Regions from separate parts of the Homo sapiens genome. Here all the other regions are linked to region 4. The links come from fine-mapping of genetic effects on gene expression. A gene starts in region 4. Each other region holds a variant in brackets. All regions are shown on one strand. Distances are between the middles of the regions. Region 1 has its middle 20 kb from the start of MDM2. Region 2 overlaps CPM (carboxypeptidase M). Region 3 overlaps RAP1B (RAP1B, member of RAS oncogene family). Region 4 holds the start of MDM2 (MDM2 proto-oncogene).

The links. PIP is the estimated chance that this variant, and not a neighbour inherited with it, causes the effect.
Region 1: its variant is fine-mapped to the expression of MDM2 in whole blood (INTERVAL, PIP above 0.99).
Region 2: its variant is fine-mapped to the expression of MDM2 in whole blood (TOPMed, PIP above 0.99).
Region 3: its variant is fine-mapped to the expression of MDM2 in whole blood (INTERVAL, PIP 0.98).

The regions. Positions count from the first base shown.
Region 1 is chr12:68,786,375-68,789,060 of GRCh38, reverse strand. No RefSeq gene overlaps it. Among named protein-coding and RNA genes, the nearest start is that of MDM2, 20 kb to the left of the region's middle. RefSeq lists enhancers at 708-1,261, 1,262-1,816. The variant C/T (reference allele first, on the strand shown) is at 1,363.
Region 2 is chr12:68,868,221-68,870,906 of GRCh38, reverse strand. CPM (carboxypeptidase M) reads left to right here. Exons shown (of 9, transcript NM_198320.5): 5 at 508-692; 6 at 1,412-1,582. Among named protein-coding and RNA genes, the nearest start is that of MDM2, 61 kb to the right of the region's middle. The variant A/G (reference allele first, on the strand shown) is at 1,211.
Region 3 is chr12:68,652,873-68,655,558 of GRCh38, reverse strand. It overlaps RAP1B (RAP1B, member of RAS oncogene family), which reads right to left. Exons shown (of 8, transcript NM_001010942.3): 5 at 1,307-1,447. Among named protein-coding and RNA genes, the nearest start is that of SNORA70G, 27 kb to the right of the region's middle. The variant A/CA (reference allele first, on the strand shown) is at 1,208.
Region 4 is chr12:68,807,020-68,809,704 of GRCh38, reverse strand. MDM2 (MDM2 proto-oncogene) reads right to left here and starts at 1,528. Exons shown (of 11, transcript NM_002392.6): 1 at 1,214-1,528; 2 at 413-497. The coding sequence starts at 1,227. RefSeq lists enhancers at 551-940, 40-1,239 and a silencer at 1,441-1,830.

The sequences.
Region 1 (2,686 bases), 21 kb after region 4:
TTAGGAGACTGAGGCAAGAGGATTGCTTTAGCCCAGGAGTTGGAGGTTGCAGTGAGCTATACTCGCACCACTGCACTCCAGCCTGGGCAACAGAGCAAGACCCTGTCTCTAAAAATGATAATAATAATAATGCTGTGATAAACTTCTCTGCACAAAAATCTTTATGCAGGGCTGGACGTGGTGGCTTACACCTGTAATCCCAGTACTTCAGGTGGCTGAGGCCAGAGAATCACTTGAGGCCAAGAGCTCAAGACTAGCCTGGGCAACAAAGAGAGACCTTGTCTTTACAAAAAAATTAAAAAAAAAATAAAAAACTTAGGCACACTCGGTGTCATAAGCCTGTAGTCTCAGCTACTCAGGAGGCTGAGGTAGGAAGATGGCTTGACCATGGAAGTTTGAGGCTGCAATGAGTTATGATCTTGCCACTGCACTCCAGCCATGGTGACAGTGAGACCCCATCTACAAAGAAAATCTTTTTGCACATCTTTACTTTCTTAGGATAAACTCCTGAAAGTGGATTTTCTGGGTTACAGGGCATGAGCATTTTTGTGGCTATGCAATTTATGGTCTCATGATGAATGTAAGATGGTACTTGTTTTCCCATACCCTCGACAGGACTAAATTTGGGAAAACATGGATTTATAGGTCTCTATGAAAATTAAAATGTTTCCCAATTTTATATGTTTAAAAATTTCATTTAAGAACAATTTAAATCCATTGGAAAGAGCTGTAGAAAAAGGAATTTGTAGTAAAAGGGATTTGCTTTGTGTTGTACTTCAGTGAGTGCTGGGTCTTTTTTTTGTATTAATATTCCCAAGTTGAAGTAGAAGTGTTCATCAATGCTTTAACTTGTGGGCTTAAAGGAGAGGTGTGATACAAGGAAAAAGGGGTGGTGGAAAATATTTTTTAAAAAAATGTAACAGGCCGGTTGTGATGGCTCACACCTGTAATCCAAGCACTTTGGGAAGCTGAGGCAGGTGGATCACTTGAGGTCAGGAATTCGAGACCAGCCTGGCCAACATGGTGAAACCCCGTGCCTACTAAAAATACAAAAATTAGCCAGGCATGGTGACACCCGCCTGTAATCCCAGCTACTTGGGAGGCTGGGGCAGAAGAATTGCTTGAACCCAGGAGGAGGAGTTTACAGTGAGCCAAGATCGTGCCACTGAATTACAGTCTGGGTGACAGAGCGAAACTCCATCTCAAAAAAAAAAAAAAAAAGGAACACGATAAGAAATCAAGGCGAAAAGAAGAAAAGAACAAACATGGGAAAGGAAAATGATGGGAAAGCAGGCAGGCCCGGACTCTGGCCACCGCACGGGCTTTTGCCTGGACTTGCCCATTTTCCTGTGTCATTGCTGT[C/T]CCATGTTTTCAGTTCACAAGTTGAGCAACTGCAGCTTCCTTTATCATTAGAAGAGGAAATGAAAGAGCAAGGGTACAAGTAATTACTGGGGCCAGCACAGAATGTTTTTTGTTTGTTTTTTTCTTTTTTTTTTTTTTGCCCGGCTTGTTTTGTTTTTTTAGAGGGAAAACCCATGTGTTGCAACTTGTTCAATCACCAGGATTTTAGTCCTCTGACCTTCAGACGTTAGTCATTCCTTCCTCTTAAACAGCTCCTTCCCTAGTTTTTGAACTGGTCTTTGGGTTAAACACAACAGGGCCCTTCTAACCTCTCAGAAAAGTCTGAGAAATAAATTCAAATTCTAATAAGTAGTATTTCTGAATGTTAAAATATGTATGAATTGGCTACATATTTTATATTGTTAGTTCTCTCAGGATCTTTCCTATATAGTGAAATTCACTGAGCTAAAATGTAATGTTAAATACTTACAAGAGGCTTTGGTTATAAAATGACTGAAGAGGAATTTCTCTATAAATAGGTTTAGGTTTAGGAAACCTGCAATAGCAGTGGCTCCACCTAAAGACCAGAAAATGACACAGTCTAACTGTGATGTTTTCAAGCTTAGAGGCGGTCATTCACTTTAAAAGTAAAGCGACATGGTTTTTATCTCTCACCACCTTGCTTAAAAGTGATGCAGATAACTTAAAAAGTGATTTAAAAACATAAATTCAGCACATAAAACACATAATCCATAAAACACAGCACATAAAAGTATGATAGAAAATTATTTAATAATTTTAAAAAGTAAATTGTAGTTACTCTTAAAAGAAGACTAGAGTCTTTGCCACAGTTAAAAAGTAAGTAAGGTTAGGCCAGGCGCGGTGGCTCAAGCCTGTAATCCCAGCACTTTGGGAGCCCAAGGTGGGCAGATCACGAGGTCAGGAGTTCGAGACCAGCCTGGCCAATATGGTGAAACCTCCGTCTCTACTAAAAATACAAAAATTAGCCGGGCGTGGTGGCAGACGCCTGTAGTCCCAGCTACTCGGGAGGCTGAGGCAGGAGAATCGCTTGAACCTGGGAGGTGGAGGTTGCAGTGAGCCGAGATCGTGCCACTGCACTCCAGCCTGCGTGACAGAGCGAGACTATGTCTCAAAAAATAAACACATAAAAATAAAATAAAAAGTAAGTAAGGTTAAAAAGAAAGAAAAGTAAACTAGAGTCCAGACCAAACTAGACCAGAACTTTCCTAGCAAAATTGAAACAGTTATTTAGCTGAGTGTGGAAAGGTAAATCCTATGCATCATGTCACAAGTACACACATCATTGCTAGGTGGGATGGCTCAT
Region 2 (2,686 bases), 61 kb before region 4:
TGCTACTTAACGAACCACCCCAAAATTAGCGACTTAAAGCAACAGCCTTTTTATTTACTGTTGATTCCATAGGTCAGGAATTTGGGCAGGGCAGAGCAGGGATGGCTACTGTCCGTGCCACAGGTCTGGGGCTCAGCTCTGGTCTTTCTGAGACAATTTACCTGGAGCCATGGACTCTCCGTGGACTCTCCACGTGGCGACCATTGGGATCTCAAGGTCCCAAAAGGGAGCATCTAAGAGCAGAAGTCCCAAATACAAACACTTATCAAACCTCTGCCTGCATCACAATAGCTAGTATCTCATTGGTGAGAGCAGATCACGAGGCAGGGGATGCCATGGGATGTAAGTGCCAGGTGTGGGTCATGGCAGGCCACAAGGGCAGCCATCCACCACACCCATACTCACGTTTGGAAAGACACCTGGAGCCTAAACCAAAGGGCAAGACACTGTAAGAATCCACTCCCTCATGCCCTATCAATAAGCCCTAAAATATTCTTTCTTTTAAAGGGAAAATTATAACCAGTATGACTTGAATCGAAATTTCCCCGATGCTTTTGAATATAATAATGTCTCAAGGCAGCCTGAAACTGTGGCAGTCATGAAGTGGCTGAAAACAGAGACGTTTGTCCTCTCTGCAAACCTCCATGGTGGTGCCCTCGTGGCCAGTTACCCATTTGATAATGGTGTTCAAGGTAAGCAGGTGCGGGTCCAGTTCTGGCTTCTTAAGTCCAGAGTGGGGCTGAAAACTCTCTGCCTCTGGATGGGGATCAGCTCTCCCTTCCCCTCTTAACTTCTCTGGCAGGGTGAAAAGAGCTTCATGTTCCCAACTCTAGCCATCCTTCCTGTGATTCTTCAACAGCAGATGGGCAGTGTGGCTGAACTGACAACCCACAGCTGGACATGCATCAGTGAATTAGTGAAATTTAGATTCTAGAAAATACAATCTAAATAGTCAGATTTTGATTCTCTGACAAGAGACAACATGGCTAAAATAACATAAAACTGGAACAACTCACTTTTTTTTTTGCTAATCATATATGAACAATAATTGTTGACTCTTCTTAAAACTCTGTGGGATGAGGACCCAAAATATTACAGTAGCTTTATTCACCCCTATAATACCTAAAGAAATTGTCCTTACCTCCAGAAATTAGCAAGAGTGACTGAGAGGACACTTAATTTTTAAGCTGATTTAGGAGTTTGGATTTGT[A/G]TCTGACTTATTTGGGGGCTATCACCTTGCATATGTTTATTATAAAGTAGAAAGAAGAATAGAGGAGGTGGATGAAGGATTTCTCTCTAGGGAAATTAGAGCATGTGTGTGTGATGCGATTATGTCTTTGCTAATATGGTGTTTGTGTTTCCTCTTACTCTCAAGTCAGTTTAAAGGTCTTGGTTCATCTTTTAAATGCAGCAACTGGGGCATTATACTCCCGAAGCTTAACGCCTGATGATGATGTTTTTCAATATCTTGCACATACCTATGCTTCAAGAAATCCCAACATGAAGAAAGGAGACGAGTGTAAAAACAAAATGAACTTTCCTAATGGTGTTACAAATGGATACTCTTGGTATCCACTCCAAGGTGAGTTTCTCTTCATTTCTTCCATTCTCCTTATTGCCTTCACCCAGAAGTGCCAGCTGGTTTATTTTGATCCAGCAGTTGTTAAAAGAACTTTAGGCACAATAGGCCCTTCACTCTGTCCTTATCAGCTAATATCATAAGAGCAGTGGAGATGACTGATTGTTTGAGAGATGCTCAGACATGTTCCTCATTACCAAGGGCCTTCTTCATTCATTCAGGTACTTATTCTGTGTCTGCCTACTGTGAGCCAGGAACTGAAAGATGAACAAGACACACACCTCACCCTGGAGTTGAATAGGGGAGACAGACACGCAGATAAGTAATTGTGATAGCAGTGCAATTAGAATAAAAACAGATTTAGAGAAGGTGCAGTGTACCCCAAGGGTGCACAGAGCCAAAATACAATAGGGAGTAGTGAAGAGCTTGGAGAAATGTGATGCTTACATCCCATCTAACAGGGACAGCTGCTACTAGATCTAGCTAATTATTGTCATGCAGCCTTGGGGAGCCAATACTGCCAGATCTTGCAGTTTGTAAAGAGAAGCTGAATTTGTACATGAAGTATCATGATTTTAAAGCCATTTTGCGGGCTCAACAAAAGAGCTCTTCAGACAGGATACAGTGGGAGGAGGGCCCCCAGTTCTCCAATCTTGGAATAAGACAGCCGGGTAAGGGACAGGATGAGATTGTCATGTAGGCAACATGGAAGGAGAGATATTCTTATTAGAGGGAATAATATAAACAGAAACCCGGGGTAGGAGGGACCTAGGGTGGAAGGACAGGAGGAGAGACGGACTGGAACTGGATTTCCATGCCTCAGGGGAAAACATTCCCTTTTAGACTCGTTAGCCTGACCCCACCAACAGCAAGTTGCGGCATGCATTTCTGCGTGCAGGCCACTTCCAAAGGTGCCTTCCCTAATTGTCACTTTGGATGCACAGGCTTTCAGGTAATCTTTCACAAGCTGGTATTTTTATGCCTGGGTGGCTCTCTGTCAGTTTTCCTGGTAATATAAATAAGCATAGACCACAACTGATAGGCAACAGGTCCAGGCAGCATTCCAAACCTCTCTCTGGTGTCCAAGATACAGCCCCCTCTCCTACC
Region 3 (2,686 bases), 150 kb after region 4:
GTCTCAAAAAAAAAAAAAAAAAAGCCAATCAAAATTTACTAAAAATCAAGCCACTTATTAAATGGATTTACAAATTAAAAAATGTTCCCTGAGGTTGCTGTAATTATGTAGGGTCCCCCCAAATTCCCTTGTTTCAGAAGTCCAGAAAATAAAAGCATTTACCATGGGTGTCTCCCAGCTCTCACAATATTTGCTAAAATTAAACTGCAGTACAATGAGTCTTATTTATGTATTTATTTTGAGACAGGGTCTCACTATGTCACCCTAGATGGAGTGCAGTGATGTGATCTCAGCTCACTGCCAACCTCCACCTCCCAGGCTTAAGTGATCCTCCCACCTCAGCCTCCCAAATAGCTGAGACCACAGGCACGCGCCACCATGCTGGCTAATTTTTTTTTTTTTAAATTTCTGGTAAAGGCAGGGTTTTGCTATGTTGCCCAGGGAGGTCTTGAACTCCTGAGCTCAGGGGATCTACCCGCCTTGGCCTCCCAAAGTGCTGGGATTAGAGGTGTGAGCCACCATGCCCAGCCTGGTTCTTACAGTATGCAGATCAGCAAAACCAACACCACTTCGAAACTTGTTAGAAATGCAAATTCCTGGGTCCTACTGCTGACCTACTGAATCAGAAGCTCTGAGATCTCAGCCCAGCAATCTGTTTTAACTGGTCCTACAGGTGATTCTGATGCAAAATCAATTTTGAGAACCACTGCTATATTTAGTGTGATGAGGAATTAAACTCCATTATGGTAGACTCTGAAGGGGCACCTAAATTAATAATGTTAGAATCTAATGTATTTCTTGCCTTTAAAATCCCAGCACTTTGGGAGGCTGAGGCAGGCGGATCACAAGGTCAGGAGATCGAGACCATCCTGGCTAACATGGTGAAACCCTGTCTCTACTAAAAATACAAAAAACTAGCTGGGCATGGTGGCAGGCGCCTGTAGTCCCAGCTACCCGGGAGGCTGAGGCAGGAGAATGGCGTGAACCCGGGAGGTACAGCTATCGCACCACAGCACTTCAGCCTGGGCAACAGTGCAAGACTCCATCTCAAAGGAAAAAAAAAAAAGGAAGGGTGTAACATTTAATTTTCACAGGATAATGGCAAAGGAGGAAATTTCTCACTTTCCACATGATATATATTTGAAAACATGTATGGGTATTTTTGCCTTTCAAGGAAAAAGTTTAAAAAAACCAACACCCCCCCCCC[A/CA]ACCAAAATACACAAGCTTTAAAATGAATTTAAATTTAGACTTAAACAATTATAATCAGGGTTTTGAAATAAAATATATTTATTTGGAAGTCAGCTTACATCATCAGTGTCTTTAACTCGAAGAATCTGTTCTCTCAGGTCTTGTAAATCGTTAAATGTGGACTGTGCTGTGATGGAATAAACTAATGCAAATCCTTGTCCATTTTTCATGTATAAATCCCTCATTGCTGTAAATTGCTCCTACAATAGAAAGAAAGGAACGTTAAAAAACAATAATGTTTTGACAGTTATTTTTACAATTTTCACAGTCTATAATTATAGCTCAATGAAGAATACTGTAGTATTATGTAACTTTGTTAAAATTATAATCTATGACAAGATACTATTTGAAAAAATTGGCATTTTAGTTTCTTTTTTTTTTTGAGACGGAGTCTTGCTCTGTCACCACGCTGGAGTGCAGTGGCGCGACCTCGGCTCACTGCAACCTCTGCCTCCCGGGCTCAAGTGATTCCCCTGCCTCAGCCTCCCGAGTAGCTGGGACAACAGGCGCACACCACCATGCCCGGCTAATTTTTTTCTTGTATTTCGGTAGAGACGGGCTTTCACCATGTTAGCCAGGATGATCTCCATCTCCTGACCTTGTGATCTGCCCGTCTCGGCCTCCCAAAGTGCTGGGATTACAGGCGTGAACTACCACGCCCAGCTGGAAATAGGTTTCCTATTTAAAAACAATACACCAAAGTCGATTTATATACAAAAAATATACTCAAGTGGAACAGAAATATCCTGTCCCCAAAAGTTACTAAAGGCAGCTTTTAAAATACATCATCATGTATAAAGCACCCCAACTGTATCTGCCAAGTTAATCTATTAGCTATGACTCAAATGCTGTAGTTCTGTAGGGCTCCATCAGCATGATCTAGACCATCCCATTTTCCCACACTACTTTTTCTTTGCTAGACTGTGAGCATTTGAAGGTAACAACACAGTGCCTGACATGTATCAGGTATTCAAACATTAGCTGAATGAATACCATACACCGAGAACAAATCTTCCCTTCATCTTCACATACCTACAAATTTAGTTTGTCTATAAATACGTTGAAGGAGAACAGATACCAATCAAAATATTTCTTTTTCTTTTGAAATGGAGTCTCACTCTGTCACCCAAGCTGGAGTGCAGTGGTGTGTTATCAGCTCACTGCAACCTCTACCTCCAGGGTTCAAGCGATTCTCCTGCCTCAGCCTCCCGAGTAGCTGGGACTACAGGTGCCTGCCACTGCACCTGGCTAATTTTTGTATTTTAATAGAGACGGGTTTCACCATGTTAGCCAGGCTGGTCTTGAACTCCTGACCTCAGGTGATCCACCCCCCTTTGACCTCCCAAAGTGCTGGGATTACAAGGCATGAGCCATCATACCCAGCTCAATCAAAATATTTCACACAGCTGCTGATGAATGAATGTATGCCTGTATTATTT
Region 4 (2,685 bases):
TGGAGCAAAAAGCCTGGAATTTTCAGGTTTTACTTTAAAATTTCTCTAATGACAAAAATCTTTAAAACAAGCACGAATAACTTTTTTGACTTTTAGAAACCATTTTTAAAAATTAAATACTGGGAGGTCAAAAAGGAAAAAAAAATCAGTCACGTAACAAACGTAACTTCAACCACGCTTAACAATGTAATGGAACTAATTTTTAAAGCAAATGTGGCAAATGGCTAAAAAAATACTGACCAGTTCTTAACAGTTTTTAACTCCACGCAGTTACGCCAGAGGTAGCACACTTTAAGCTATGCACATACAATTTTATTTACAGAGCCATGCTACAATTGAGGTATACGAAATTTAGTTTATCACTTCATAAAATAAATTATTCTTAAAAGTTACACGAGACAAAAATACTAACCAGGGTCTCTTGTTCCGAAGCTGGAATCTGTGAGGTGGTTACAGCACCATCAGTAGGTACAGACATGTTGGTATTGCACATTTGCCTACAAGGAAAAAAAAGACACGATGAAAACTGGAAATCATGAAACATCTGTGGAAAATACATCATATATAAAGAACATAAACAACAGTTAAAACTAAAGCTACAAGCAAGTCGGTGCTTACCTGGATCAGCAGAGAAAAAGTGGCGTGCGTCCGTGCCCACAGGTCTACCCTCCAATCGCCACTGAACACAGCTGGGAAAATGCATGGTTTAAATAGCCCCAGCTGGAGACAAGTCAGGACTTAACTCCTTTTACTGCAGTTTCGGAACGTGTCTGAACTTGACCAGCTCAAGAGGAAAAGCTGAGTCAACCTGCCCACTGAACCGGCCCAATCCCGCCCAGACTACGCGCAGCGTTCACACTAGTGACCCGACAGGCACCTGCGATCATCCGGACCTCCCGCGCCGAAGCGGCCCCGCAGCCCCCGGCCCCCGTGACCTTTACCCTGAACTCCCGCGGAGACCTCCGAACCACCCCCACCCCCACCGCCGCGAGAGCCGTCCGAAATCCCGCCCTCCTCCCTGGCGGCGACTGCCTAGCCCCAGTCCAACAAAACCTCCGCAAAGCCACGTGCCCCATGCCCCGCGCCCCGCGCCCCGAGCCCCCAGCCACGAACCGCACAAAGGCTGCGAACGGGCAGAGGCTGGGAACCAGCGATAGAGGGGACACCGTCAGAGCCCAGACCCAAAAGTGACCGCTCGCTGCCGGGCCAGTACCTGCTCCTCACCATCCGGGGTTTTCGCGCTTGGAGTCGGGGGTCCCTCAAGACTCCCCAGTTTCCTTCACGGGGCGCGCGGAAGCACGACGCCCTGGGCCTCGGGGATCATTCCACTCTCCGGGCCAGGGCACTGGGCGCTCGTACGCACTAATCCGGGGAGGGACGGTGCTCCTGGCTGCGAAAGCAGCAGGATCTCGGTCAGAGGGGTCGCGGCCGCCCCTCGGGCTCGGCTTCTTGCTCCATCTTTCCGACACACAGGGCCACACAGGCCCCAGAAGCAGCCAAGCTCGCCGCGGTGCCTCGGTGCGCGCCCCCTACCGCCCGAGGGGAGCGCGCGGGTCGTCGCGGCGCATCCGGGCATTTGTGCGCGCGCACACAACCGGCCCCGCTTCCGCCAATTGGGTCCGGGGCTCGGCCGCACCACCTCCGGGATGATGGAGTGGGGGGTGTCGCCCCGCGGGCGCGGCGGGCTGTGAGGCGGGGTGGGGGTGTTGGCCGCGAGCTGAGAGGGTGGGGCTCGGCCTGGCGCGGAGCCAGCAAGGTTTGGCGCTGTGACACTCCTTTAGCCGTTGCGCTATGTTTGTATTTCTTGTGTTTACACTTCCCGCCCGCGGTGGAAACTGCGACAAATGCGGATCTCCGTGTCGCTGTTACCAAAAAGAAACCAAAATTAACAGCTGTTTAATATATTAAGCCCACTCCACCAGCCGCTGGAGTTGTACCCAAATGAGTTATTTTAAGGCCTGTTTTTAAAAAAGATTAAAAATAGCACTTAAGGCAGGCTTATACACCGGTGCATACAGCTGTTCTGGTTGGAGAACGAAGATGCTGGTTACCGTTGGCGGGGAGGGGAGCGGTTACTCTGCGCTTTTAGAATGTTTGGGTTTGGCTGGGCGCGGTGGCTCACGCTTGTAATCCCATCACTTTGGGTAGGCCGAGGCGGGTGGATCACTTGAGGTCAGGAGTTCAAGACCAACCTGGCCAACATGGGAAACGCCGTCTCTACTAAAAACTACAAAAATTAGTCGGGCGTGGTGGCGGTCACCTGTAATCCCAGCTACTCTACTCCGGAGGCTGAGGCAGGACAATCCTGTGAACCCGGGAGGCAGAGGCTGCAGTGAGCCAAGATCATGCCATTGCACTCCAGCCTGGGCGACAGGGCAAGACTCTCAAAAAAACAAAAACAAAGTTTGGGTTTGTTAATCTACACATTCATTATCATTAAAATATATACTTATATATTATGCACTCATTCTGACTCACCTACTTTCCCACAGAGATGTGGCAAAAACGTTTTTGATGCGGTCTCATAAATTGAGGACATAAAGAATTGAGTTAGCTAAACCCAAAAACACAGCCATTGCAAAGAAGGAACACGTTTCTTCTCTGGCCAGTAAGTGATTAGCTCCTTGTGAACAAGGACCTTTTTTTATAAAGTTATATCCTTCCCTTCTGCAGCTTTTTTTTTTT